Linked DNA regions of Homo sapiens. The protein of the gene in region 4 purifies or fractionates together with the protein of the main gene of each other region. This does not show direct contact. Each region holds a gene or a part of one and is shown on either strand. Other genes may lie near its edges. The genes, in order: USP8, MYADM, BMPR2 and CD83.

The links.
Region 1: the proteins of CD83 (region 4) and USP8 purify together in Homo sapiens (affinity purification with mass spectrometry; 2 studies listed by BioGRID and IntAct, with this or other methods). This does not show direct contact.
Region 2: the proteins of CD83 (region 4) and MYADM purify together in Homo sapiens (affinity purification with mass spectrometry; 2 studies listed by BioGRID and IntAct, with this or other methods). This does not show direct contact.
Region 3: the proteins of CD83 (region 4) and BMPR2 purify together in Homo sapiens (affinity purification with mass spectrometry; 2 studies listed by BioGRID and IntAct, with this or other methods). This does not show direct contact.

The regions. Positions count from the first base shown.
Region 1 is NC_000015.10:50,427,378-50,434,405, reverse strand, and holds part of USP8 (ubiquitin carboxyl-terminal hydrolase 8), read right to left. Parts: intron 1-7,028. UniProt on the Homo sapiens protein: Hydrolase that can remove conjugated ubiquitin from proteins and therefore plays an important regulatory role at the level of protein turnover by preventing degradation. Converts both 'Lys-48' an 'Lys-63'-linked ubiquitin chains.
Region 2 is NC_000019.10:53,870,872-53,876,952, reverse strand, and holds the end of MYADM (myeloid-associated differentiation marker), read right to left. Parts: intron 3,426-6,081; 5' UTR 3,424-3,425; coding exon 2,455-3,423; 3' UTR 518-2,454; downstream 1-517.
Region 3 is NC_000002.12:202,512,324-202,519,351, reverse strand, and holds part of BMPR2 (bone morphogenetic protein receptor type-2 precursor), read right to left. Parts: intron 5,634-7,028; coding exon 5,523-5,633; intron 4,465-5,522; coding exon 4,373-4,464; intron 531-4,372; coding exon 300-530; intron 1-299. UniProt on the Homo sapiens protein: On ligand binding, forms a receptor complex consisting of two type II and two type I transmembrane serine/threonine kinases.
Region 4 is NC_000006.12:14,113,183-14,120,787, reverse strand, and holds the start of CD83 (CD83 antigen isoform a precursor), read right to left. Parts: upstream 3,017-7,605; 5' UTR 2,977-3,016; coding exon 2,940-2,976; intron 2,839-2,939; coding exon 2,723-2,838; intron 1-2,722. UniProt on the Homo sapiens protein: Transmembrane glycoprotein predominantly found on the surface of many immune cells including dendritic cells or lymphocytes that plays various roles in immune response regulation.

The DNA.
Region 1 (7,028 bases), on a different chromosome or scaffold from region 4:
TGCAGCCGGGCGTGGTGGCTCAGGCCTGTAATCCTAGCACTTCGGGAGGCTGAGGCAGGTGGACTGCTTGAGGTCGGGAGTTTGAGACCAGCCTGGCCAACATGGTGAAACCTCATCTCTACTAAAAATACAAAAATTAGCCGGACGTGGTGGCGCACACCTGTAATCCCAGCTATTCAGGAGGCTGAGGCAGAAAAATCGCTTGAACCCAGGAGGTGAAGATTGCAGTGAGCGGAGTCTGGGCGACAGAGCAAGACTCTGTCTTTTAAAACAAAACAAAACAAAACAAAACAAAACAAAAAACCTTATGCTTCAAGAAGGATTGCAAGTGAAAAAAAAATAACTAAGTATATGCAAGAAAAATTAACATGCTTCTAACAACAAAAAATAAAAATTCTTAAGATGTGTAAACCTGACAAAGAACTTCAGCCTTAGTCAAACAGCAGTGCTCCAAAAGTGAAACCCAAAAGTGTTGAAAATGAGTTAACAAAGAGAAAATGCAGCCGTGCACAGTGGCTCACGCCTGTAATCCCAACACTTTGGGAGGCCAAGGCGGGCGGATCACGAGGTCAGGAGATCAAGACCATCCTGGCTAACACGGTGAAACCCCGTCTCTACTAAAAAGACAAAAAATTAGCCGGGCACGGTGGCGGGCACCTGTAGTCCCAGCTACTCAGGAGGCTGAGGCAGGAGAATGGCACGAACCTGGGAGGTGGAGCTTGCAGTGAGCTGAGATCGCGCCACTGCACTGCAGCCTGGGCAACAGAGACTCCATCTCAAAAAAAAATAAATAAATAAAGAGAAAATGTTCTTTCTCTGACATCCTTCTGCTCCTTTCTAAGACAAAGAGTAGGGATTTGATGACTGGAACCACAAAGTGAAGACTAAAAGGTAAAAAGTGAAAAATGAGGTTTGCAGTCATTCAAACTGGTCCTGATTTTAAGCAGGGATTCACACCAGCCACTCCTAAGGTCTTTGGCAATATTGAAAGGAAAGCAAAAGTTGTCTTTGTTGGTCACCCACCATCTCTCTCTATTTCTGCCCTTAGGCAGCAACAATACTCAACATAAGTATCTTCTCGCTGTCTTAAATCTCATAATCCACTCTACACTCGTTCTGTATAAGGTGCCACAAACAACTAAGTATTGATTAAATAACTTTTTTTTTTTTTGGAGACGGAGTCTCACTCTGTCGCCCAAGCTGGAGTGCAGTGGCATGAACTTGGCTCACTGCAACCTCCACTTCCCAGATTCAAGCAGCCTCAGCCTCCCAAGTAACTGAGATTACAGGCGCCCCGCCACCATGCCCCACTAATTTTTGTATTTTAGTAGAGACAGGGTTTCTCCATGTTGGCCAGGCTGGTCTCGAACTCCTGACCTCAGGTGATCCGCCCGCCTCGGCCTCCCAAAGTGGTGGGATTACAGGCGTGAGCCATCGTGCCCGGCCAATGAAATAACATTTTAAAGTAATCCTCAAGTATTAAGAAGGCTCAACCCTCTCAAGATTTAATCACTGCTAAAATGTATGGTATTTTCTGAGCAACTACTATGTCTCTAGCACTGTGCTAAATGCTTGAGGGCAGTGTTTTTAAAATCCATTAGAAGGTCATGATCAGCATTAAAAAAATAGCAAACATCAGACTATGTCACACATAGTAAGGTTAGGTACTGCTTCGTAAAATTGTTTCAGTTATGTACATGTGTATATGATATAACACTGGATGAAAATGTAAAATGTATTTCTTAATACAGGTGACAATTTTAAAAAAAGTATGAAAGTCTCACACTACAGCAATGTAACTCCAAGTATGGTCCAATGACCAGTGCTGATTGGGGAACTGTTTGTTATCAGTTTGTGATAAAATAAGAAGTTTGTGACAGAATGTAGATCAATTAAGCACACTGACCTTTTTAAAGTAGCAGCAAGACTTTCTCCATGCAAAAAGCAGTGCACTGACTGGGCGTGGTGCCTCACAGCTGTAATCCCAACACTCTGGGAGACTGAGGTGGGAGGACTGCTTGAGCCCAGGAGTTCAAGAACAGATATTTATGTTGAGTATTGTTGTTGCCTAAAGGGCAGAGATAGGGAGAAATGGTAGGTAGCCAACAAAGTGGGCAACAAAGTAAAGACAAAAAATTTTACAAAAAATTTAAAAATTAGCTGGGCGTAGTGGTGCACATCTGAGGTCTCAGCTACAAGAAGAAACAAACTTAAGTTCCATCTCTTCCATCCTTTATGGTCCCAGTTCTTGGAATTTGTTTCTTCATGTGAATCCTACAATGCTTGTGATCTATATCATTCCTTAAATACAGTAATGGGATCAACAGACAATTACTATAAGGCTTTAAAATCCTCATACACACGCAGTGCTCATGATGATGTGATGAGAGAGAGAACCTGGCCTTGAGGACAGAATTTAGCTAAGAACAGGGTAAGAAAGGAGGACATCTGGCTGGGCATGGTGGCTGACACCTGTAATCCCAGCACTTTGGGAGGCTGAGGCAGGCAGATCACCTGAGGTCAGAAGTTCAAGACCAGCCTGACCAATATGGAGAAACCCCGTCTCTACTAAAAATACCAAATTAGCTGGGCATGGTGGTGGACGCCTGTAATTCCACCTACTCAGGAGGCTGAGGCAGGAGAATCTCTTGAACCCAGGGGGCAGAGGTTGCAGTGAGCCAAGATCGCACCACTGCACTCCAGCCTGGGCAACAAGAGTGAAACTCCATCTCGGAAAAAATAGTAATAATAAGGAATATTACAGAAGTTATTGGGAAATAATCAATCGGATAGAGGGAAAATGTTGACATGTCTTTGGATCCCTGGCACCTATCTCAATAGTCCTCACATAGTCACCACTTTAATAAATGTTTCTCCCTGTCAGCTGAATTTAACTAAAAGGAAAAAAAAATGTTGACTAACAAGAATAACTAAATTATATTATGTAGGAGATGGAGTCACATTATGGAAGACTTTGGAAGCCATCCAGAATTCTTTATATTTGATTCAGCAGGCAATAAAAGCCAGTTCCTGATGGGAAAAATATTATCTCAAGATGGTCAAATTAGGGATATGTAAGTAAGATTGAAAGGAGATGAGAACAAGGGAATGATACTATGGAAAAGAGTAACTACAAGGTCACTGCAGAAAAGAACACAAAATGGTAGAAACATGCTTTGGTAACTGGTTGATCGAAACAGTATTTTCTCTTGCTTACACACACACACACACACACACACAGAGGCACACACACTGTACCCTGCAAAATATGAAGAGCAGTAGTGCTATTAACAAAAAAAGTAATACTGCAGTTTAAAACTGATCAGTTTACAGCAGCGTTTCTCAACCTTGCCATCACTCACATTTTGGACCAGATAAACATTTGTTGTGAGAGGCTGCTCTGTGCAATGTGCACTGCAGGATGTTTAGCAGCATCCCTAACCTCTACTAGACGCCAGTTTACTATCATCCTTCCCTTCCAGTTGTAACAACCAAAACTGTCTACAGTCATTGCCGAATGTGTCCTGGAAGGCAAAATTACCCCCAACAAGAACCACTGGTTTACAGCAAAGTAGGTAATTCGATGTGGAAAATGTTGAGTGTATGCCAAAGGAACATCTTAAGATGTAAATATTAACTAGAAATCAGTTATATGTGAGAGCAGACAGATATTAAATCTGTTTATCAACTAATAAGGCATCAATGTTGACTTTGATAATCCCTATTGTTTTGGAAGATAATTAAGTATTGACACCAAAATTATGTTATCTAGGATTTGGTGAACTGCTGGGCAACACAGTGAGACCTTATCACTACAAAAAAAAAATAAAAAAATAAAAAATTAGCAGGGCATGGTGGCATGCGCCTGTGGTCCCAGCTTCTCGGAAGGCTGAGGCCTTCCTTGAGCCTGGGAGGTTGAGCTTGCAATGAACCATGATTACACCATTGCACTCCAGCCTGAGCAATAGAGGGAGACCCTGTCTAATTGGGGGAGTCTTAGAATGCCATGAGAAAAAAAGAAAAGAAAAGAATAAACTAGCCCTAGTTCTTTATTTTTTTGAGATGACGTCTCACTCTGCTGTCCAGGCTGGAGAGCAGTGGCGCAATCTCGGCTCACCAAAACCTCCACCTCCCCGGTTCAAGCGATTCTCTTGCCTCAGCCTCCCAAGGAGCTGAACTAGCCCTAGTTCTAAAGAGTGACTGTCTAAACTGGCTTCAATTAGGTAAACAATAGATACCTACTATACACAAGGTGCAGTGTTGTGATACAGGGGATACTAAAAAAATACAACTCTTAATAAAGTTTCTGCCTCTTAAAATGAAAGTTAAGTACATAACGGTAACAAAGTAAAGTGTGGCTTAATGCTGTGATATAGGCACTTAGCAAACCAGGCCAATGTCTGTTTGTTTTATTAAGGACCATTCCCAGAAACTAACAAAAGGGTAACTGTTTTCCAGAATAGATGTCTATCTACATTTATAACTTTAATCCATTTCTTTTGTCTTCTACCTCATTAATTTTTTAACAGATGCAAAATCATTAAGTAGGGAGCCAGATCGTACTTAACATGCACCAAAAACATAGTTCTCAATCCCAGCTGTATGTTAGAATCAGTTACCTAGAGAACTTTAAAAAAATATTGATGCTCAGATCCCACTCCTAAACAATTAAATCAGAATCTCTATGGATGAGACATACACACAGGTATTTATTTTCTTATTTATATATTTAAAAAAATACAGAGTCTCACTATGTTGTCCAGGATAGTCTCAAACTCTTGGGCTCAAGTGATCCTCCTGCCTAGGTCTCCCAAAGTGCTGGGATTACAGGCATGAGCCAACCTCGCCTTGCCCACATAGGTATTTTTAAAAAGCTTCCCAAATGAATTCTAACACCAGTCAAGACTGGGAACCATCAATATAAGAATGAATATAAACATGCTGCTAGGAGCAACAAAATAATATGAAGGCAACAATTTGTTTCCAGCTGAAATCAGCATCTTAAATCATTCAACCTACCAAAATTTTAAAAAATCATTTTCATTTTTAAAACTCTGTAATTGAGAAATTAAAATAACACCTCCAAAAAAAAAAAAAAAAACACCTCCAGGATGCTTATGCCCATAACTCTTGTTCTGAAATTGGTATTATAATGTGTAATTATTTCATTTTACTCTATTAAAAAGACATGTGGGTTTACACCATTATTGGTATGTTTCAGAATTTAGTGTAGTAGTCCCCCCTTATCCATGGTTTCGCTTTCCATGGTTTCAGCTACTTGCAGTCAACCACAGTCCAAGAATATTAAATAAAAAATTCCAGAAATAAACAATTCATAAGTTTTAAATTGTGCACCACCTCACTTCGCCCAGTCTGTGACATGAATCATCCCTTTGTCCAGTGTATCCACACTGTAGATGCTACCTGCCTGTTAATCACTAAGTGGCCGTCTCAGTTACCAGACTGACTATAGCAGTATTACAGTGCTTGTGTTCAAGTAACCCTCATTTTACTTAATCATGGCTTCAAAGTGTAAAAGCAGAGATTCACGTATGTCAAAAAGAAGTTGTAAACTGCTTCCTTTAAGCAAAAAGGTGAAAGTTCTCAACCTAATAAGAAAAAAAACCAAAAACCTCATGCTGAGGTTGCTAAGATCTATGGTAAGATCTTTTATCTGCAAAATTATGAAGGAAAAAGAAATTTGTGCTAGTTTTGCTGTCACACCTCAAGTTGCACAAGTTATGGCCACAGGGCATAACTTTTATTACACTATATTGTTGTAATTATTCTATTTTATTATTAGTTATTGTTGTTAATCTCTTGTTACTAATTTATAAGTTAAACTTTATCATAAAAATGTATATATAGGGAAAACATAGTATATATAGGGTTCAGTACTATCTGTGGTTTCAGGCATTCATTGGAGGTCTTGAAACATATCCCCTGCAGATAAGAGGAAGACTGCTGCATTATTAAAAACTAAATTGTAGGCCCGGCGTGGTAGCTAACGCCTGTAATCCCAGCACTTTGGGAGGCCGAGGCAGGTGGATTGCCTGAGCTCAGGAGTTCGTGACCAGCCTGGGCAACACAGTGAAACCCCATCTCTACTAAAACACAAAAAATTAGCTGGGCGTGGCGGCATATGCCTGTGATCCCAGCTACTTGGGAGGCTGAGGCAGGAGAATTGCTTGAACCCATCAGACGGAGGGTGCAGTGAGCCGAGATCATGCCACTGCATCCAGCCTAGGTGACAGAGCAAGACTCCCTCTCAAAAACAAACAAACAAAAAACTAAATTGTAATGTGTTAGTCAAAAGAGACAAGGCTTAGTTAACCCTTATTCACTATACATGAGAACTGTTTTACTTGAATTAGTATGGTATTAGTCAGGTGTGCTGGCGTGTGCCTGCAGTCCTAGCTACTTGGGAGGCTGAGGCAGGAGGATCACTTGAGCCCAGGAAGCAGAGGTTACAGTGAGCCAAGGTCATGCCACTGCACTCCAGCCTGGGTGACAGAGCAAGACCTTGTCTCAGTTTAAAAAAAAAAAGGGCCAGGTATGGTGGCTCACGGCTATAATCCCAGCACTTTGGGAGGCTGAGGCGGGCAGATCACCTGAGGTCAGGAGTTCAAGACCAGCCTGGCCAACATGGCAAAACCCCATCTCTACTAAAATACAAAAATTAGCCGGGCATGGTGGCAGGTGCCTATAGTCCCAGCTACTCGGGAGGCTGAAGCAGAATTGCTTAAACCCAGGAGGCGGACATTTCAGTGAGCCGAGAACTCACCACTGCACTCCAGCCTAGAAGACAGAGCAAGACTCCGTCTCAAAAAAAAAAAAAAAAAAAAAATTAGTACGGCTATAAATGTAGAATTCCAAATAAGTTTAATATAATATTTCATCATTCAGTACTAATAAATTTAATATTATGGAACTGTTGCAGGCCTTACTTTCCATTTATTAATCATATGACTTTGAACAAATTCCGTAAATCACTCCCAATACCACCACCACTCTTCAGTTTACTTTCA
Region 2 (6,081 bases), on a different chromosome or scaffold from region 4:
AAATGGTATTTAGGGGGAAGAATAGACAGTGTTTGATGAGGGACTGACTTGAGTAGACGGGGGGAAGGTACCACCATGTGCTTGGGTTCTCAGCTCTGAGAGGCTATTACTGAAATGGGGGGACCTGGGAGGACGAGGTGACTGGGGAGGAAAGCTCCTTCACTCAAATTAGGACGTTGTATTTGTGAGGTGCTCAGGGGACAGACTCCAAGGAGGGAGAAGTCTAGTTCATTTCTATCCCACCCAGCCCTCCTGGTTTGAGGAAGTCATTTAGAAGACCTAGATCCAGCTAGTATCTTCTGATGAGGCCAAGGTTGTCTTGGCACCAACCCTATTCTCCCACTAGACCCAAGAATCTGGCCCTTGCCCCTCTCCGAGAGTCCTCCCCCGCTTTTCTTTTTTATTTTTTTGTAGAGACGGGGTTTCACCATGTTGGCCAGGCTGGTCTCAAACTCCTGACCTCAAGTGATCCGCCCGCCGTGCTCGGCCGCCCTCCTCATTAAGAAAGCACAAGTCCTTCTTTTACCTTTATATTGATATTTAAAAGAAAAAGAACATGATGGATACGGGAATGGGGGAAGGGACAACGGTTCTACGATTAACAACAGGAACTGATAGGAACCAGAAGCTCCAGGGATTTAAAAAAAAATAAAATATATATTTATACATTTATATATATATATATATATATCACGTTATGTATGTGAGTCCCAGACAAGCAGGAAGCAGCAGCAAGAAGCAACTAGCACACAGAAACACCCGTGCGTGTGCACTACACATTCAAGCAAAGCCATTCCTCTAGCTAGGACGCAGCAATCCCCACCCTCCCACCTACGGGCAAAAGAGAACAGCTGAAAACAAACTTCCCTCTTTAAGGGCCACTCAGTAATTTTTGTCCTCATGGCCAGGAAAAAGAAAGAAAAACAAAACAAAACAGAAAAGGTCGATCTTGCCTTGAAAGCGGGCAGTGGCTATTTTCTTCTCTCTGCCAAAGCAGGACACGTTATTCTTAACACAGAGGGCCACATCGCTGTCCCTCACAAATACTTCAGACAGTTGTCTTCAACATCCTGTGGTTCTTCGTCCGATTCCTTTTTTTTTTTGAGATGGAGTCTCGCTCTGTCCCCCAGGCTGGAGCACAGTGGTGCCATCTTGACTTACTGCAACCTCCACCTCCCGGGTTGAAGGGATTCTCCTGTCTCAGTCCCCCCAAATACCTGGGATTACAGGCGCCCGCCACCACGCCCGGCTAATTTTTGTATTTTTAATAGAGACATGCTTTCACCATGTTGGCCAGGCTGGTCTTGAACTCCTGACTTCAGATGATTGCCTGACTTGGTCTCCCAAAGTGCTGGGATTACAGGCGTGAGCCACCACGCCCGGCCCCGACTCCTTCTTTTTTTTTTTTTTTCTTTTTGATACCACAGAGAATAGTTGGGATGAAAGGCATCCAGCCCCTGCTTCCTTTAAGATGGCCTCTAGGCAGTGGGTGTTCTGTAAGCCTGGCAAAAATTCTGGAGCCAATCTCTGGCAAGGCTGAGTGCCAGGCGGGGCCTAGGGACCCAGGGTCGGTGCTTAAAGCCTCCCGCCCATTGGAAATTACTGACCTCCAAATATATATATATATATGTTTTTTAATTTAAAGGGGAAGTACACTGCACACCTTCCTCCACTGGGAGAAAGAGGGCCCAATCCCCAGCTACCCACCCCCCACCCCCCAAACACACACACACACACACACACACACACACACGTACACACTGACTAAGGCACAGCGAGGGTGGGCAGGCATGCTTTGGCAATGGGGCCCCTTGGGGGGCTGTGGCATGGACGGCTGCAAGGGGTGTGGATGTGAGCTCAGCACCTTTGGAGGTGGGTGGAGGCAAGGAGAGAAAGAAGTCTCAGGGCTCCCAAGGACACAGGAGAAGGTGCTTGCAAAACAGGCAGATAAGAAAGCCGACAGGCAACCCAGAAAAGAGATGAGAAAAAAGAAGAGTGGAAAAAGAGAAACAGGCTGGGTGCGGCAGCTCACACCTGTCCTCCCAGCTACTTGGGAGGCTGGGGCAGGAGAATCGCTTGAACCCAGGAGGCGGGGGTTGCAGTGAGTCGAGATCGCACCACTGCACTCCAGCCTGGGCCACAGAGTGAGAATCCGTCTTAAAAAAAAAAAAAAAAAAAAAAGAAAAGAAAAAGAGAAACAGCTCAGGGGTGAAAACAGGATGTGGGCAACAAAACAACACAGGAAGGAAACAGCAAGAGGAAAGGGAAGGAAGAAGATGCATCCAAGAACTGGTTAGAGTGCAAGGAATTGGGAAGGAAAGAAAAAGGTGGGAGGGAGGGGAGACAGGAAGAGGAAAACAGAGGAAAGGCGGAGGAAAGAAGTACTCCATAAAGAAAACTCGGGCAAGAAGAACAAAGAGGTTGGAGAGGGAACGGGAGCCTCTTGGGAGAGTCTTAGACCTTGACAAAAACCAGGTGGGCAGAGTGCACCAGGTCAGCCACATACGCCAGTAGGTTGATGGCCGTCAGGATGGCCACAGCCAGTCGGCGGTCCCAGGCACACACGTAGTAGGCATGGCTGCGGCTGCAGCTTACATCTCTCGAGCGCCGAGGCTGGCCGCCATACTTCTCATCGAACTGGTAGAGGGGCCAGAGAACAAGGGCGGTGGCATAGAGGAGGACAGACAGCAAGGCCAGCCCCGACAGGAAGCTGGGGAAGGGGATGGGTAGCACGTTGGTGCACTCCCCCAGGTTCAGCAGGATGGCGATGGCCGCTAGGATGAAGCAGATGGCGTACACCGCCACGCACCACTCCAGGGCCGGCTGGTGCTGGTACAGGTTGGGGTCGCTGATGAACGCGAAGATGATGCAGGCAACGAAGGTCTCCAGCACCTTCAGCAGCCCGGGTACGGTGGCCATATAGCCAGTGATCTCGCCGGGCCGGGCCCGGGTCCAGGCCACTTCGGTGGCGTAAGCCACACACGCGATGCAGGAGAAGAAGGTGGCGGCGATGGCGTGGTCCCGCGAACGGCCGTGGGACAGGAACTGGACATAGGTGGTGGGGTAGATGATGGAGGCCGAGAGGCAGAAGAGGGCCGCATAGCAGGCGAAGGTGATGGGGAAGTTGCGCCAAGACAGGGGGAAGCGGGCCTGGAGCCCGCACAGCTCCACGATGAGGATGATCAGGGTCACGGAGAAGCAGAAGCACCAGGTGAACATGGACCAGTTGCCCATGGACCCCGTCCAGGCGCCCACGCTAGCCACCAGCGAGAAGGCCACGCAGGTAGACACCAGCTGCAGCAGGCGAAGGAGACCCAGGGGCTGTGTCAGGGCCCGAGGGGACCCCACGATCATGGGGGACCCCAGGCCCGAAGATGACGTCGTGGTGGTTGTGATGGTGGTGCGGGTTACCGTCACTGGCATGGCTGCAAAAAGGGGAAAGACAGTGTCCTTATACAGTCACAAACATAAGAATCCAGGTCCCTTAGCCATTGCCTACCCCAGGGACAAATTAATATGAGCTCTAATTAGGGAGTTCCCAAGATGTGGGGCTTTCGGTTTTCTTTTCTTTTTTTTTTTTTGAGACAGAGTCTTGCTCTGTGGCCCAGGCTGGAGTGCATTGGCACAATCTCAGCTCACTACAACCTCTGCTACTCAGGTTCAAGTGATTCTCCTGCCTCAGCCTCCCGAGTAGCTGAGATTACAGGCATGTGCCACCACGCCCGGCTAATTTTTTTGTATTTTTAGTAGAGACGGGGTTTCACTGTGTTAGCCAGGATGGTCTCGATCTCCTGACCTCATGATCCGCTGGCCTTGGCCTCCCAAAGTGCTGGGATTATAGGCGTGAGCCACCGGGCCCAGCCTTGGGTTTTCAAATGGGGACAGTCCTGGGCATACAGGGATGAGCCTGTCCCCTCCGGTTCAAGGCTCACTCCTCCCCTACTCGTATCAGAATCCAGGAGTCTAGGCCCCTATTTTCCTCCTTCTCAAGAGATTCTTCTCTCTTTCAAGACCTAACTACTGTACAACTACACTGTTTGCTTCCCACTCCAGATACCGTGCTTCCCTCTTTCCCTCCCTCCCCAAGGGACTCAGTAGCTCAGCCATTTAGCACTCTGTACTCTATAGCACCACCCCTCTGGCCAGGCACAGGTGTGGCTGATGCCTGTAATCCCAGCACTCCAAGAGGCTGAGGCAGGAGGATTGCTTGAGCCCAGGAGTTGGAGACCAGCCTGGGCAACCTTAGGGAGACCTCATTTACCAAAAAAAAATTTTTTAATTAGCTGGGTGTGGTGGTGTGTGCGTGTGGTCCCAGCTACTCGGGATGCTGAGGTGGGAGGATTGCTTGAGCCTGTGGGGTCAGGGCTGCAGTGAGCTGTGATGCACCAGTGCACTCCAGCCTGGGAGACAGAGTGAGACCCTGACTCAAAAAAAAAAAATTTTTTTTAATTACAAATAGGCCGGGTGTGGTGGCTCACACTTGTAATCCCAGCACTTCGGAGGCCAAGGTGGGTGGATCACTTGAGGTCAGGAGTTGGAGACCAGCCTGGCCAACGTGGCGACACTCGGTCTCTACTAATAATACAAAAATTATCTGGGCGTGGTGGCATGCACCTGCAATCCCAGCTACTCGGGAGACTGAGGCAGGAGAATCACTTGAACCCAGGAGGCAGAGGTTGCAGTGAGCCAAGATAGAACCCCTGCACTCCAGCCTGAGCCACAGAGCCACACTCCGCCTCAAAAAAAATAAAATAATCTGGGCGCAGTGGCTCATGCCTGTAATCCCAGCACTTTCGGAAGCCGAGGCTGGCAGATCACTTGAGGTCAGAAGTTCAAGACCAGCCTGACCAACATGGTGAAACCCCGTCTCTACTAAAAATACAAAAATCAGCTGGGTGTGGTGGTGGGCGCTTGTAATCGCAGCTACTTGGGAGGCTGAGGCAGGAGAATCGCTTGAACCCTAGAGGTGGAGGTTGCAGTGAGCCGAGATTGCGCCACTGCACTCCAGCCCGGGTGACATGAGTGAAACTCCATCTCAAAAAATAAAATAAAATAATAAAAATAAATAAAATAAATAAAAAATAAAGCATCCTCCTTCTGCCTCCTGCCACAACCCAAGTGTCAGAACAAAACGCTTGTCTTCCACAGGCTCTGAAAACCCCATCTCTCAACTTCCTTTTCTTTCAGTATTCAGAGCTCTGCACCCCAGACCCTGTGAGCAAACTTCCTTCTTCCATCGAACAGTGACCTAGACATTTGCAGCCTCTAAACGGCCCAACCTCCCCAGGCTTCCACTCTCAGGGACCCACATCTAATAAGAGCTCCGACCTCCCGATAAAGGATATCTTCTCATAGAGATCCCAGCCGTGGAAAACCAAGAGATCTCCCCTCCCTTCTGACAAGGAGCCTAAACTCTTAGCGGCCTCCTCCTCTCCCTACCCCCCACCTTGGAGATTAGCAACCTTCACTCTCAGTCTAACTCCCACCTGAGATTTAGGACTGGAGTACTGCAACCCAAAAAAGCTAGTTTGAGCCTCCCCCTCCACACTCCTGCATACTGAGTCCATCTACCTCCACCTTCTCTCCCCAAAACCCAGCCAGCTGGTCCCCCAGCTTCTGGGAAACTCAGCTCCCCAGATTTCCAACTGTCCAGTAGGAACCCCAGGCCCTTCCACTGAACTCTCTCTAGGCCTCACAATCCTGTTTTTTGGTTGTTGTTTTTTTTACATGGAGTCGCTCTGTCACCCAGGCTGCAGTGCAATGGTGCGATCTTGACTCACGGCAACCTCCGCCTCCCGGATTCAAGCGATTCTCCTGCCTCAGCCTCCTGAGTAGCTGGGATTACAGGTGTGTGCCACCATGCTCGGCTAATTTTTGTATTTTCAGTAGAGATGGGGTTTCGCCATGTTGGCCAGGCTGGTCTCAAACTCCTGACCTCAAGTGATCCGCCCGCCTTGGCCTCCCAAAGTGCTGGGATTACAGGCATGAGCCACTGCGCCTGGCCATCACCGTCCTGTTATAAGGGGTCAGACCTCTGGCCCTGGACCCTTAGCCTGAAGGATCCCAGATGCCCCAGACTCC
Region 3 (7,028 bases), on a different chromosome or scaffold from region 4:
TTGCTCTGTCGCCCAGGCTGGAGTACGGCTGTACAATCTCGGCTCCCTGCAACCTCCGCCTACCGGGTTCAAGCAATTCTCATGCCTCAGCCTCCCAAGTAGCTGGAATTACAGATGTGTGCCATCATACCCGGCTAATTTTTGTATTTTTAGTAGAGACGGGAGTTTTGCCATGTTGGCGAGGCTGGTCCTGAACTCTTGGCCTCAAGTGATCCACCTGCCTTAGCCTCCAAAAGTGCTGGGATTACAGGCATAAGCCACCACACCTGGCCTCAGTTTATTTTCTATGAAGAACTTACATTGGGATAGTACTCCATCACAAGCAAATATTCCATGCGTCCATCTGCAGTGACTCTCTCATCTCCAACTATAAAGCGGGCAATGTTGTCATGTTCCATCAAAGGCACTCTGTAAATGTTCTTTTCGTTGATAAAATTCTGACGGTTTGCAAAGGAAAACACTTTTACAGCAACTGGACGCTCATCCAAGGAGCCTTTATATACTGCTCCATATCGACCTCGGCCAATCAGCTGCAAGTGTTTTAAAGAAAGCAAGGTATTAATATCACAATTGAACAATCAAATTTACTAAATAATAAAGTACAAATTTAAACAGAATGCTACAGCTCTCTGTTGCTTACAGTTTATTCCATTATCAAGAAATTAATAAATTCTGTTCTAGTATGGCTGATGAAGCTCCTACCAGACCCAGCCTGCCCATAGAGAACATTTATAAATGCTGGACAAAATTTAAAAAAAAGAAAGATCTAAAGGCAGATAGATCTTGAGAGGCATTAAAGCTTTGAGAAAAAAGTGGTATGGGGCAAGCTACCCATTTTTATGACTTTTATCCTGAGGGCAGGCTGAAATCAGCACTGTGCAGTGGAACTAAAATTGCTAAAGAAAACCATTCTAGGCTGGGTGTGGTGGCTCATGCCTGTAATCTCAGCACTTTGGGAGGCTGAGGTGGGCAGATCACTTGAGGTCAGGAGTTCGAGACCAGCCTGGCCAAAGTGGTGAAACCCTGTCTCTACTAAAAATACAAAAATTAGCCGGGTATCATGGCACACGCCTGTAATCCTAGCTACTCAGGAGGCTGAGGCAGGAGAATCACTTGAACCCAGGAAACGGAGGTTGCAGTGAGCTGAGACCGCGCCACTGCACTCCAGCCTGGGCGAAAGAGCAAGACTGTCTCAATTAAAAAAAAAAAAAAAAAAAAAAAAAAGAGGCCAGGCGCGGTGGCTCACGCCTGTAATCCCAGCCCTTTGGGAGGCTGAGGTGGGTGGATCATGAGGTCAGGAGATCGAGACCATCCTGGCTAACACGGTAAAACCCCATCTCTACTAAAAAAATACAAAAAAAAAAAAAAAAAAAAAGTCAGGCGTGGTGGTGGGCGCCTGTAGTCCCACTTACTCAGGAGGCTGAGGCAGGAGAATGGCGTGAACCTGGGAGGCAGAGCTTGCAGTGAGCCGAGGTCGCGCCACTGCACTCCAGACTGGGTGACCGAGTGAGACTCCGTCTCAAAAAAAAAAAAAAGAAAAAAGAAGAACAGAAAATTGTTCTGGCCTTGGGAAACTCAGGACATATTTTGGACAGCCACAGTTGCTAGAAAATGAGGGGAGAACCCTAGAAAGGAGAAATTCAGAGAGAGGAAAGCCCAGTGAATATACAAGAGAGTTTCCAGCTAAAGATAAAATAACTGAGGCCGGGCGTGGTGGCTCACGCCTGTAATCCCAGCACTTTGGGAGGCTGAGGCGGGTGGATCACGAGGTCAGGAGTTTGAGACCAGCCTGGCCAACACAGTAAAACCCCATCTCTACTAGAAATACAAAAATTAGCTGGGCGTGGTGGCATGCGCCTGTAGTCACTTTTGTGGAGACTTAAATACTTGCATAAAGATCCCTACATAGAGGCTGAGGCTGGAGAATCACTTGAAACCGGGAGGCAGAGGTTGCGGTGACCCCAGACCATGCCTTGCACTCCAGCCTGGATGACAGAGTAAAAAAAAAAAAAAAAAGATAAAATAACTGAACTGAGATTTGAGCTTCTGCCCCAAACAGATTTGTGGTATGTGTTCAACCAAGTTTATTGCTTACTAAAACAACAAAAAAAAATCTTTTTTTTTTTTTTTAATTGAGATAGTCTTGCTCTTTCACTCAGGCTGGAGTGCAGTGGCACGGTCTCAGCTCACTGCAACCTCCGTTTCCCGGGTTCAAGTGATTCTCCTGCCTCAGCCTCCTGAGTAGCTAGGATTACAGGCGCGTGCCATGATACCCAGCTAATTTTTGAGTTCAGTGTTCCACAATACAATATTCACAATATCCAGAATACAAAAAAATTACTCAACACCCAAAGAACCAGCAAAATGTAACCCATTCTCGTTATTTTTGGCTTCTGGGGATTGCTTTTACTTTTTATTAAAACAGGTTGGGGATTTACCATCATTTATTTAAGGATATATGTTGTGTTTCATACACTGTTTCCAGATCAAAATTATACAAAGTGTCCTTTAAAAAGGTTATATCAATATATAGTTAATTCAGCAATGTTTGGAAGTGTTTCTATCACTTAATCATGGCTAAAATTCCATGGGTTAACTAGTATTTCTTTCAGCCTTGTAAATTGGACATCTTACTGTACATTTCTTAGCCACACTTACTTCTTTTGTGAATTGGCAGTTAATACCTTTTGTCCTTTTTTTTTTGAGACAGGGTCTCTGTCACCTAGGCTAACCACAACCTCTACCTCTTGGGCTCAAGTGATCCTTCAACCTCAGCCTCCCGAGTAGCTGGGACTACAGGCATGTGCCACCACACCCAGCTAATTTTTGTATTTTTTACAAAATAAATGGGGTTTCACCATGTTGCCCATGACTTGTCTTGAACTCCTGGGCTCAAGCAATCCACCCACTTTGGCCTCCCAAAAGAGCTGGGATTACAGGTGTGAGTCACAGCACTCAGCCTTTTTGTCCATTTGCTATAGAATGTTTCTTTCATCTTGATTTATATCAGTTCTTTATCAAGTTTTCCCTTATATGTTGAAATGTTGAAATTTATTTTTCAAATTTGGCTTTTATCTTTGTTTATGGTATGTCTCTCCCAAAACAGAAAGTTCTTACAATTTTTTATATAGTCAAATCTATCACATCTATTATTTAATAGTCTCTGGTTTGGGGACCATAGTTTTCAAGTCATTCTTAATAAATATAAAAACACTCATCATGGTAACACTTTTAATGTAGCTTCTGAGATATCACCAAATGAAACTTAAATTCTATATAAAAGAGCCTTATGTATCTATAAAAATATGTAATATATGCAGACAAGGAGTATTTATTTGTTGTCTATTATGGATCCCTTGTGGCACACTCTTCTCAAACTTTCATGTCTTTATTCTCATACCCTGTACAAATCTCTAATCAAAGGTCAACCTCTTTCTAAATATATTTTCTTTTTCTTTTTTATTTTTTGAGACGGATTCCTGCTCTGTCACCTAGAGTGCAGTGGCGTGATCTTGGCTCATTGCAACCTCCACCTTCTGGGTTCAAGCAATTCGCTAGCCTCAGCCTCCCAAGCAGCTGGGACTACAGGCGGGCGCCACCACTCCCAGTTAATTTTTGTATTTTAGTAGAGATAGGGTTTCACCATGTTGGCCAGGCTGGTCTTGAACTCCTGACCTCAAGTGATCCCCCTGCCTCAGCCTCCCAAAGTGATAGGATTACAGGCGTGAGCCACTGCACCTGGCCATATTTTCTTTTTCTTTCTTTCTTTTTTTTTTTTTTGTGGCAGAGTTTCGCTCTTGTTGCCCAGGCTAGAGTGCAATGGTGCGATCTCGGCTCACCGCAACCTCTGCCTCCCGGGTTCAAGCAATTCTCCTGCCTCAGCCTCCTGAGTAGCTGGGATTACAGGCATGAACCACCATGCCTGGCTAATTTTGTATTTTTAGCAGAGACAGGGTTTCTTCATGTTGGTCAGGCTGGTCTTGAACTCCTGATCTCAGGTGATCCACCAGCTTCAACCTCCCAAAGTACTGGGATTACAGGCATGAGCCACTGCGCCTGGCCCATATTTTCTTTAATAACCCCCTTTTCATCACTTTCTTATCCACTGTACTTTTCTTCATAGCACTTACTACTACTTGCAATTATATTATACATTCCTGTACCTGTCTGTAGACTCCCCAATTCAAATAGAAGCCCCAGGAGACATTGTTCACCTATGTTCCTAGTGCCTAGAATAGGCCTTGACAAAAAATTGTAATTTAGTAAATAGGGTTAAATAAATGAATGAATGTCTTAATGATTGAATGAAGTCACTGTTCCAGGTCTAGTATCACAGTAGAAACAACAGTCCATAATCTAACGGCAAACTTACCTCCAACAGTTTCAGATTATCTAGATCAAGAGAGGGTTCGGATGCTGCTGCCTCCATCATGTTCATACTGTGAAGACCTTGTTTACGGTCTCCTATAAGAACAGGAAACAGGTTACTAATATATGGTTTTCTTAAAATGAATATCTTTTTACACTTTTTATAATATTACACTTAAAAAGAAGAGCTGCAGAAAGATTAGCAGCAAGATTTATGCCTAATGTCAATAGGAGTAAAGCTATTTACTAAACTAGGTAATACCTATAAATTAAGATGAATGCAGAATAGCATGAAAGCCAAATTCTGGGAGACACTCCCATGATGACTTACTTTAAAAGTTTAAAACCCTAAGCAATATTATAAAAACTTTAAAGAAGATTGTATAGAAGTTATTCAAATGAATCAATGAACGCTGATTTCCTAAACAGTCCATCAAACCTAAAGTATATTAGAACCAACTTGACATTTGATGATACTGAGGAATTACTGTTATTTTTTCAGATGTGAAAATGGTATTATGGATATGTATTCTTAAAGCTCTTGTATTGGCCGGACGCAGTGGCTCACGCCTGTAATCCCAGCACTTTGGGAGGCCAAGGCGGGCGGATCACGAGGTCAGGAGATCGAGACCATCCTGGCTAACACGGTGAAACCCCGTCTCTACTAAAAATACAAAAAATTAGCCGGGCGAGGAGGTGGGCACCTGTAGTCCCAGCTACTCAGGAGGCTGAGGCAGGAGAATGGCGTGAACCCTGGGGGGCGGAGCCTGCAGTGAGCCGAGATCGCGCCACTGCACTCCAACCTGGGCGACAGCGAGACTCCGTCTCAAAAATAAAATAAAATAAAATAAAATAAATTTTAAAAAAAGCTCTTGTATTGTAGAGATAATATTTATAGATATATAATATCTAATTAAATATTTACAGATATATGATATCTGTGATTTGCTTCAAAATAATCCAGTGGCATGGAAAGGGGTAGTGACTGATAATTTAAATGAAACAATACTGTCCATACGTGATACTATTGAGGCTGGGTGTATTTTGCATAACTTTGAGACTATTTTTTTTAACATACGGAATTTAAAAGGAGCAAATAAATTGATTAAATTGCATGTTTAATAAACAATAGGACAAAAAATGGTAATTTTTACCTGTCAACATTCTGTATCCAAAGCATAAGGCAACTATCAAAACAGCTAATACAGAGACTGATGCCAAAGCAATGATTATTGTCTCATCTCGGTTAAATGAATGAGGTGGACCTAAAAGAAAACAAATTTTGAAATGTCATTTTTTTTTAAAAAAGTATTTTGTTAAATACTGACAGACTGCCCTTTAGAAAGGCTGTACCCATGTATAATCAAATTAGTAATGTTTTTGCATCAAAGGAAATGAAAGAAAAAATTAGTAATAAATGTGATAATTACAAATTATATTTTTTAATCATACAGACTATTCTGTATAGATTTGGAACACTAAAACACCAAGTAGATGTGCTCCTAATTATTAAAACATCAACAATACCATGAAACAGATTAGACAGGATAGTATAATATCAAGAGTCTTAGAATCTAACAGTTTTAGAATCACATTTGGTTTTAAATCCTCAATTTCCTCATTTATAAAAATAGTACTCTGTATTTCCCAAGTTAGCTGTAAGATTTAGATGGTAGTCTAAGTACTTAACACAACGTCAAGAATATATTATCTGGCTGGGCACAGTGGCTCATGCCTATAATCCCAACACTTTGGGAGGCTGCTGCAGGAGGATCACTTGAGGCCACAAGGTCAAGGCCAGCCTGGACAACATAGCAAAATGCCAGACATTAAAACAAATTAAAAAAAAAAATTAGTCAGGCATGGTGGCATGCACCTGTAGTCCCAGCTACTCAGGGGGCTATGGCAGGAGGATTGCTTGGGCCCAGGAGTTTGAGGCTGCAGTGAGCCATGATTGTATCACTGTACTCCAGCTTGGGTGATGAAGTGAGACTCTGTTTCTTTAAAAAAAAAAAAAAAATTAAAGTTTTTTTTTAAAAAAGCATATATTATCTACGCAATAAATGGTAGTTACACTTATCAATATTGGTATTTTTATTAATGAAAATAGCATGGCTTTGGAGGCAGTTAAATCTGAATAGGACTTGAAGCTCACTTCTTCCACTTAACATATGACCTTAGGAAAGTTTCTTCTCCTATCTGAGCCCAAGTTTACTCACTTGCAGAATGGAATGGGAACACACATAGGTAAATCACAGGGCTATCACAAACATGTAAACATTTTATGTGTTAAGTTCCATTCTGTGGGTCAGATCGCATCTAGAGCAAATACCCTTTAGGATGGATGGCCACAAACTAGAGCATATCCAAAAGAGAGCAAGTACAACTATGAAGGTTTGAGACCTCTGAACTGTGATGGGTAGAAAGAACTGAAAGCATCTGATGAGGAAAAAAAAGAAAACTTGGGAGGATATGATAGCTGTCTTCACATCAAATAACCAGTTCCAATCAGTGTATCTTCAAGGATAAGAGCCTTTAGTTGAGCATACAGAAAAGCATGGCTTATAAACAGACCTGTCTAAAACAGAATGAGTTGCCCTATGAAAGAGCTGTTCATTGTTTAACTAGATGTAGTTATGCAATGTTTGGTAATACTGATC
Region 4 (7,605 bases):
GGGTCCTTTTGTTAATTACAAGTATCAGTGCCAAATGGACAAAGGCAAGATGCTACATGGTGCCGGAGGATTGAGTGGTGAATAGAATTTTAAATTGTGAGTCATTATAACCATACTTATGATATGCAGACAGCCTGCAGAATGTGCTTCAATCTGGTGGATGGTGAAAACCCACTGCAAGGGACTCTGCTTTCCTTGCCCAGTATGAAGCCCCCTCCTAAGCTGGCAAAACAGGTTTTACAAAGCCAGGGTAGTGATGATGAAGTGAGTAGGATGGGATAAGCTGGTTCTGGTTACCAAAATGAAATTCCTCCCTTTGTGGCTACCCCTCCACTTTGATGAAACATTTTACAAGAAACTTATAGAAAAATGACCAGATGCTTAACATTCTGTAAAATGAAGTATTTTGGCATTTCACCACTGGCCTTGTCTCCAGAACACTCTATCCATTTTTGTTGTATAAGCATAATCAATGAAAAAGTATAATTATTGGGCTGGAAAATAATAAGTATCTACAGAACATGCTGAGAGCTGTTTTAAAAAAAATGCTTAAAGGAACAATATATGTCACTTTCGAGGCACCTGATTCGTTTATTGGTATAGCATAACTCTCCTACCCACGAATCTCAATCACCATTTACTTCTCAAAAAATAACTACGGTATGACTTTTCATTGGCACTATTCCATGGATCAACAGGAAAAAAAGAACGCCTAGAGACTGCTGTCCCTTTTTTTCTTGACAGAGCTTTCAAAGACCTTGGGGGTAAATCTCGCAAGAATTCTGTCCAATAAACAAGCTCATGCGTTACCGAGTTACGTCACCAGCTGACATCCAAGGAGAAGTCCAAGGTTAATTGCTATGGTTTAGTGGACCATTCCAAATGACCCTGTGCAAGAAGCTTTCACTCCAGAACTGTTTGAACTTCACAGCCTGAAATTTCATCTACTTGTTTCATGAGTACTTTTTAATTACTCCCCTGGGGGTATTAATAATGTTTTCTTTATTAAATAGTTACTCTCTGGAAGGGATAGTGGTTTCATGTTTTTCCCCGTTCTTTGAGATAACTAAGTCCCTGCCTGGTTAGCCCAGGGGCACTTTGATTTTCTTTATCTTAAGTTATTAAGGGAGAAAACAGAGATCAAGATAGACCTCTAACAACTCAGGATTTGGAATCAGACTGCTTCGTTCAAATCCCAACTCCACCATTTAGCTAGCTGTGCAAAAGTGGACAAGTTATTTCCCTCCCTAAGGCTCAGTTTCCTCACCTGTAAAGTAGGAATAGTAACAGTACTAATCCCTAAGTCCATTCTTCCGATGGATGGAAATGGATAATGTATGTAAATATTTACCTTGGAGCTTGGCACGTGGTGAGCATTCAAAAATTGTTTTTACAATATTTTTAAAAATACTATTGTTTTGACTATGAGAACAATTTCGGAATTGTTGTGTTCTCTGATCCCACAGTAAGTAAGGTACCAATGAAGTAGGAATATTTAACACCTTACTTTTATACACAATACAATGCTCTGAGGCAGCAGCACCATCCCCGTCATGCATAACTCATGAAGTGCTGGGCTGAATTCACAGAGCACCTTTGCAATTTATAGGGCAAAAATTAGGTGCCGTGAAGAATACACAGAAGTATGGATACAGCCACTGCCCCCCAGGGAACTGACCATCCAGTTAGGAGACACACACACAAAGAGATCACCGCAATGATGCCTTGTACTGTTAAGTGGCCAAAGACGTACAGTTTCTTATAGTATCTTTTATGGTGGGCAGAAGAACGCCCTGCATTTTGGGGAAAGCTACAAGTGCAGAGATTTGCCCCCGTGGTAAGACAGCAAATCAGTGAGAGCTACAGAGTAAGGTTGTAATATCATATTCATTTGGGTTAAAATGGAGGTGCTGTGGTAGCAGTGGCCTGACTTAAAGAAGGACCAGTGATATCAAACAGTAGCTGCTTGGCTTTGGAATGACACCATCATTGCCATCTTAGAATCTGAGAATGTTTCAGTCAAGAGGAAACCTTGAAAAAGCCTCCTTGTCACTCAGTCCACTTACAGTAGGAGCAGCAAGGCCTGTTCTTACACATGCGGGCTCCGGCTCATGCATCCACCTGATGCTCTCAAGGCTGCCAGAGGAAGGAGGAGGAGGGCTAGGGGAGGAAGCCAAGGGTATCCCACAAAGGAGATGACCACTGATAACTACCATGGATGAAATGGCCTAAGTCACTTCTGTGTCTTAGCCTTTCCTTTCAAATTGCCCCCTCCCCCTCCCATGTATCATGGGCATCACAGTCACAAAACACAAGAAATCAGAAGTCTGGAGACATTCCCCCTGTCCAATGCCCAAATCTAGGTCCCTGTTGCTTTCTTCCTGACCTGCTGGCCCACAACCACAGGTGGCCTCCAGAATTAATCCAAATGAGAGTCTCTGCCCTTCCAAAACATCTTAAGTGGATCATTCATCTCAGGCCACCTTCAGTGACAGGAAGGGGATTGAGGTCTGCGGAGAGCAAAACCTAATTCGGCCCTGTACCTGGATGCGGATGGGGTGGGGGAGGCGCGACGGGAGGCTGGGTACTCCAAGTTCAGCTGCGGGAGACGCCCCTCGCCCCCACCTGGCAGCCACAGAGGGTCGCCAGCCTAGGGGAGATGGTTCCTGCTGTCTTCAAATGAGCCCACCAAACCCCAGCCCGTGGGTATCGCAGCACCTACCTTGACCCAGGAGACCGTGTAGGGAACCTGCGGATCCCAGGGGGCGGTGCAGGGCAAGTCCACATCTTCGGAGCAAGCCACCTTCACCTCCGGCGTCGCGGGAGCCAGGCTGTAGGCTACAAGAAAGAGAGAGCGCGTCGTGAGCAAGCGACCGACGGGAGGGGGTGTCGTGGAGGGGCGGGGGGCGACAGGCGAGACAGGCGCTCGCGAGCCCTACCGCAGCTCAGGAGCAGAAGCTGGAGGCCGCGCGACATGGCTGGAGCGCTGCGCCGCTGCCACGAGCTGCAGAGCTGTGGCGCGCGGGCGCCGGCTGCCCTTTTATGCCCGCGCGTTCGGGAACTTCCCTGCGCGCCAGCCCGGGGGATTCCCCGGCGGGCAGCGGAAGCGGGTGGCGCGCCCTCCTAGTCCCGCTTAGGCCGGGGCGCCCCCGTCCCCGCCCCCTTCGCCCCCGTCCCCGCCCCCGTCCCCGCCCCCGTCGCACCCGCCGCCCTCGCCGCGTGCGCGTCCCCGCCCCCGCGCGCCCGGGCCGGGCGCCCCGAGTTCGCGTCGCTGCTGCGGCTGGCAGCGGCGACAGCAATCCCCGCGTGACGCCCAGCGCTGGGGGCTTTGCAGACCGCGCTCGCGCGCGTGACGCTGCCGTTGACCCGCAAAAGGAAGCCGGGAACCGGGCCATCCGAGCGGGATCTGCCCATTTTACGGAGGCCAAACCAGATTCCGAGAGGGTGGGCAACTTCCTCAGAAGCCCAGCCTGTCCTTGGGAACGCACTGGTGAACCCAAGTCCTCACTCTTCTCCAGAATCTGTGATAATCAAAGGCGCGTTAGATTTCCATGGAAACATACAAGTCTGTAGTACTTGGCTCCCTGCCTTCCCCGGGAGGTTATCAGTCAGTACCGTCCTGTTTAAATTATATCACCAAAGGAGAGTGTCTCCTATTAAAATAATAATTACACGCATACACAACATTTTTGGAAAAGAAAATTCTAGAAGACAATGAAATCACCTGTAATTCATCCAGGAAGTAACTTCAGTTAACATTTTTTTATATTATAAAATGTTTATAACATAACATAACGTAAAATATTTATAACATTTGTCAGTGCACAGATTGGTATTTTTAATGGTTTATTCTTCCTGCTATCTTGTAACCTACTTTCTTTTAGCTTAATAATTTGCAAGCGGTTCCACATCATTAAAAACTTCCAACAGCATCATTTTGGTCCATTGTTCAGTTGCACCATAAATTAGAATCGATTAGTGTTAGACATACAGGTTGTTTCTTTTTGTATTACTAATATTAGAAACAATACTGTGATTGCTATGGGAAACTTCAGTGTAGATAAATCTTTGCTCTAAAATTGCTTATTTTCTTAGAATAAATACCTCAAGGAAATTGTGCTAGGTGAAGGGGAGTTTCCAATTTTGTCAAATATTGCCAAAAAATTACCTGCAAGGAGGTGTCTTCAATCTATATTCCCATCTGCAAAGAGAGTGCCTGTTTGCCAACACAAACTGTTATCCAACCTTTCTATCTTTGTCCATCCAAGAGGTTAAAAAGAGTGGCATCACTATACCACCAGTTCTAATCTGCTCTTGGAAGTAGTTATATCAATTGACAGTCCCGCCAGCTTGTGTGAGTACCTTTTCTCCAGCAGCCTCACCAAATTAATTTTTTAATTGTGAAAATGTTAAGCATACAAAATAAGTATAGAAAATATGGAATTGAACACATCTGTATACAATTTATTCTTGAGAAATAAAACAGTACTAACATTTTCGAGACCCTCTTTTTTTTTTTTTTTTTTTTTTTTTGAGACGGAGTCTCGATCTGTCTCCCAGGCTGGAGTGCAGTGGCCGTGATCTGAGCTTACTGCAAGCTCCGCCTCCCGGGTTCACGCCATTCTCCTGCCTCAGCCTCCCGAGTAGCTGGGACTACAGGAGCCCGCCACCACGCCCGACTAATTTTTTTGTGTGTGTATTTTTAGACGGGGTTTCACCGTGTTAGCCAGGATGGTCTTTTGAGACCCACTATGTGTCCTCTGCCAGATCTCATACCTAGCCATTTATGCTTCTTTTCAGTTTTTCCTGATTATAAACAATGTTGCAGGGGAGCTGAAAGTCTTCCAACACTCTAGCTCAGTAATTACACTGCATTGTTAAATATTGCCGTCTTATTATCCAAAATGCACATGCCCATTTACACTCCCCTCAGCAGGTCTTAGCATGATCAGATTTTTTTCTTTAAAGATAGGGTCTCACTATGTTGCTCAGGCTGGTCTCAAATTCCTGGGCTCAAGAGATCCTCCTACCTTGGCCTCCCAAGGTACTGGGATTACAGGTGTGAGCCACGTGCCCAGCCAGATCTTTTTAAATTTCTGCCTATCTAATGAGTGTGAAATATTAGATCCTTTTTGCTTAATTTATGTTACATTGATAACATATGCTTCAAGAACATTGGATATTTCTGAGCATTGTCATTCATATCCTTTGGCCTTTTCCATGAGCGCTGTTTATAAAATCTGGGCCAAATCCTTTCTTGGTTATATCCATGCCAAATCTCTTCTCCAAGTTTAAGATTTGTATTTTCCATTTTGTTTATGATATCTTTAATTTACCAAAGAGTTTTTAAAAAATATTTTCATGTGGTCAAATTTACTGATCTTTTGGTTTATGATTTGTGCTTCTGGTATTGTGTTTAAGAAATCTTTTCCTGACCTGAGATCATAAAAACATTCTCCTTCATTTCCTTCCAAAACTTTTAAAGTCATGCTTTTTCATATGTTGGTCTTTAATCCATTTAAATATGGTTTGATGTCGTGATCTAACTTATTTTTTCCATATGGATAACCATTTTTTCCAATGCTGCTTGCTAAAAGTCCTTCTTTCCCTACTGATTTAAAATGACATCTGTGCTTTATACAAATTTCTACATATGAGTGGGCCTGTTTCTAGACTCTATTCTGCCTCTCTTTGTGCTAATATCACACTTTCTTATTACTATAATTTAATTAAGTCTTGCTGTGGTGGAAGTGAGTCCTCACATGTTGAACTTCGTCTTCAAAATCGTTCTGGTGGCTGGGTGCAGTGGCTCACGCCTGTAATCCCAGCACTTTGGAAGGCCCAGGTGGACGGATCACTTGAGATTAGGAGTTCAAGACTGGCCTGGGCAACATGGTGAACCTGGTCTTTACTAAAAATGCAAAAAAATAACAAATACAGAAAATAGCCGGGCATGGTGGCTTGCACCTGTGGTCCCAGCTACTCAGGAGGCTGAGGCAGGAGGATCGCTTAAGCCCAGGAGGTCCACGCTGCAGTGAGCCGAGATTGTGCCACTGCACTCCAGACTGGGTGACAGAGCAAGACTGTGTATCCAAAAAAAAAAAAAATGTTCTGGCATTCTTGGTTCTTTGTTCTACCTTATACATATTATATCAATTTGTGAACCTCAAAAAACTTGATTTGAATTTTAGTAGGAATATATTCAATTTATAAATCTCCTAAAATCAACATCTTTAGAAGTCAGTTCTACAAATTCATCCCATATTGTGTATCTTTCCATTTATTTAGGTCTTCAAGAATTTTTAAAATTATATATATATAGGTTTTTCACATCTTTTGATAGATTTCTTCCTGGATACCTTCACATTGTGTTGCTACTTTCACATATATATTTTTTAAACTCTATTTTTCTAGGTGTCCATAGCCAGTGAGTAGAAATTTCCTTTCTTATTAATGTTAACAATGTGTTCTTAGACTCTCCATTAAGTCACTTGTTGAATTATGAATTATTTAGAGGGTTTTTTTAAAAAAATTTCCCAATATATGGCTTGCTTTTCATTTTGCTACTGGTGTCTAACAGTTGAGGTTGCTCAAGAACAGTCTGTATGATTCTTTGTTGCAATATCAAGGATTGCTTTGTAGCCTCATATGTGATCTTTTGGTAAGAGTGGCATGTACTCGGAAAGAAAGATCTTTTTGATTTTGCTCATGGTGTTGCTCAGATCTTCTATATCCCTTCTGTAATCATGAACTATCAATTATTGAAAGAGATGTGTTAAATTCTCTCCCATGACTACAGAATTGTCTGTTTATCTCTGAAATTTTATCATTTTTTTGGCTTGGTATAATTTGATGCTATGTTTTAGTGTCTGGAAGTTATGTTTTTCCAATGAATTGTTCCTTTTTCTCTTCATTTATTTGACTTTTTTTTTTTTTTTTTTTTTTTTGAGACGGAGTCTCGCTCTGTCGCCCAGGCTGGAGTGCAGTGGCGGGATCTCGGCTCACTGCAACCTCCACCTCCCAGGTTAAGCAATTCTCTGCCTCAGCCTCCCAAGTAGCTGGAATTACAGGCACCCGTCACCATGCCTGGCTAATTCTTGTATTTTTAGTAGAGATGGGATTTCACCATGTTGGTAGGCTGATCTCGAACTCCTAACCTCATGATCCGCCCACCTCAGCCTCCCAAAGTGCTGGGATTACAGGCGTGAACCATCATGCCCAGCCTGTTTACTCTTAATATTACCATCCTCTGCCTCTTCTTTTCTCTGGGTTAATTTCTTGCTGGCGTTTTCAATACTTTTACATTCAACATTTCTTTTTCCTTACATTCTATTGTGTCCTTTTTAAAGTATATTGTTAGATTTTCTTCTATCCAGTATGACTGACAATCTATCTTGCTAACTGAGGGTTTAATTTTATTACTTTGTGAATTCTGCTACATTAGGATTTATTTTGGTCATTTTGTTTTACGCTTTATGCTTAACCAGATTTTTCTCTGCCTCTTCCTTTCTTGCATCTTTTTATTGACCATTAATAAAAATATTTTAGCCCGGGCATGGTGGCTTATGCCTGTAATCCCAGCACTTTGGGAGGCCGAGGCGGGTG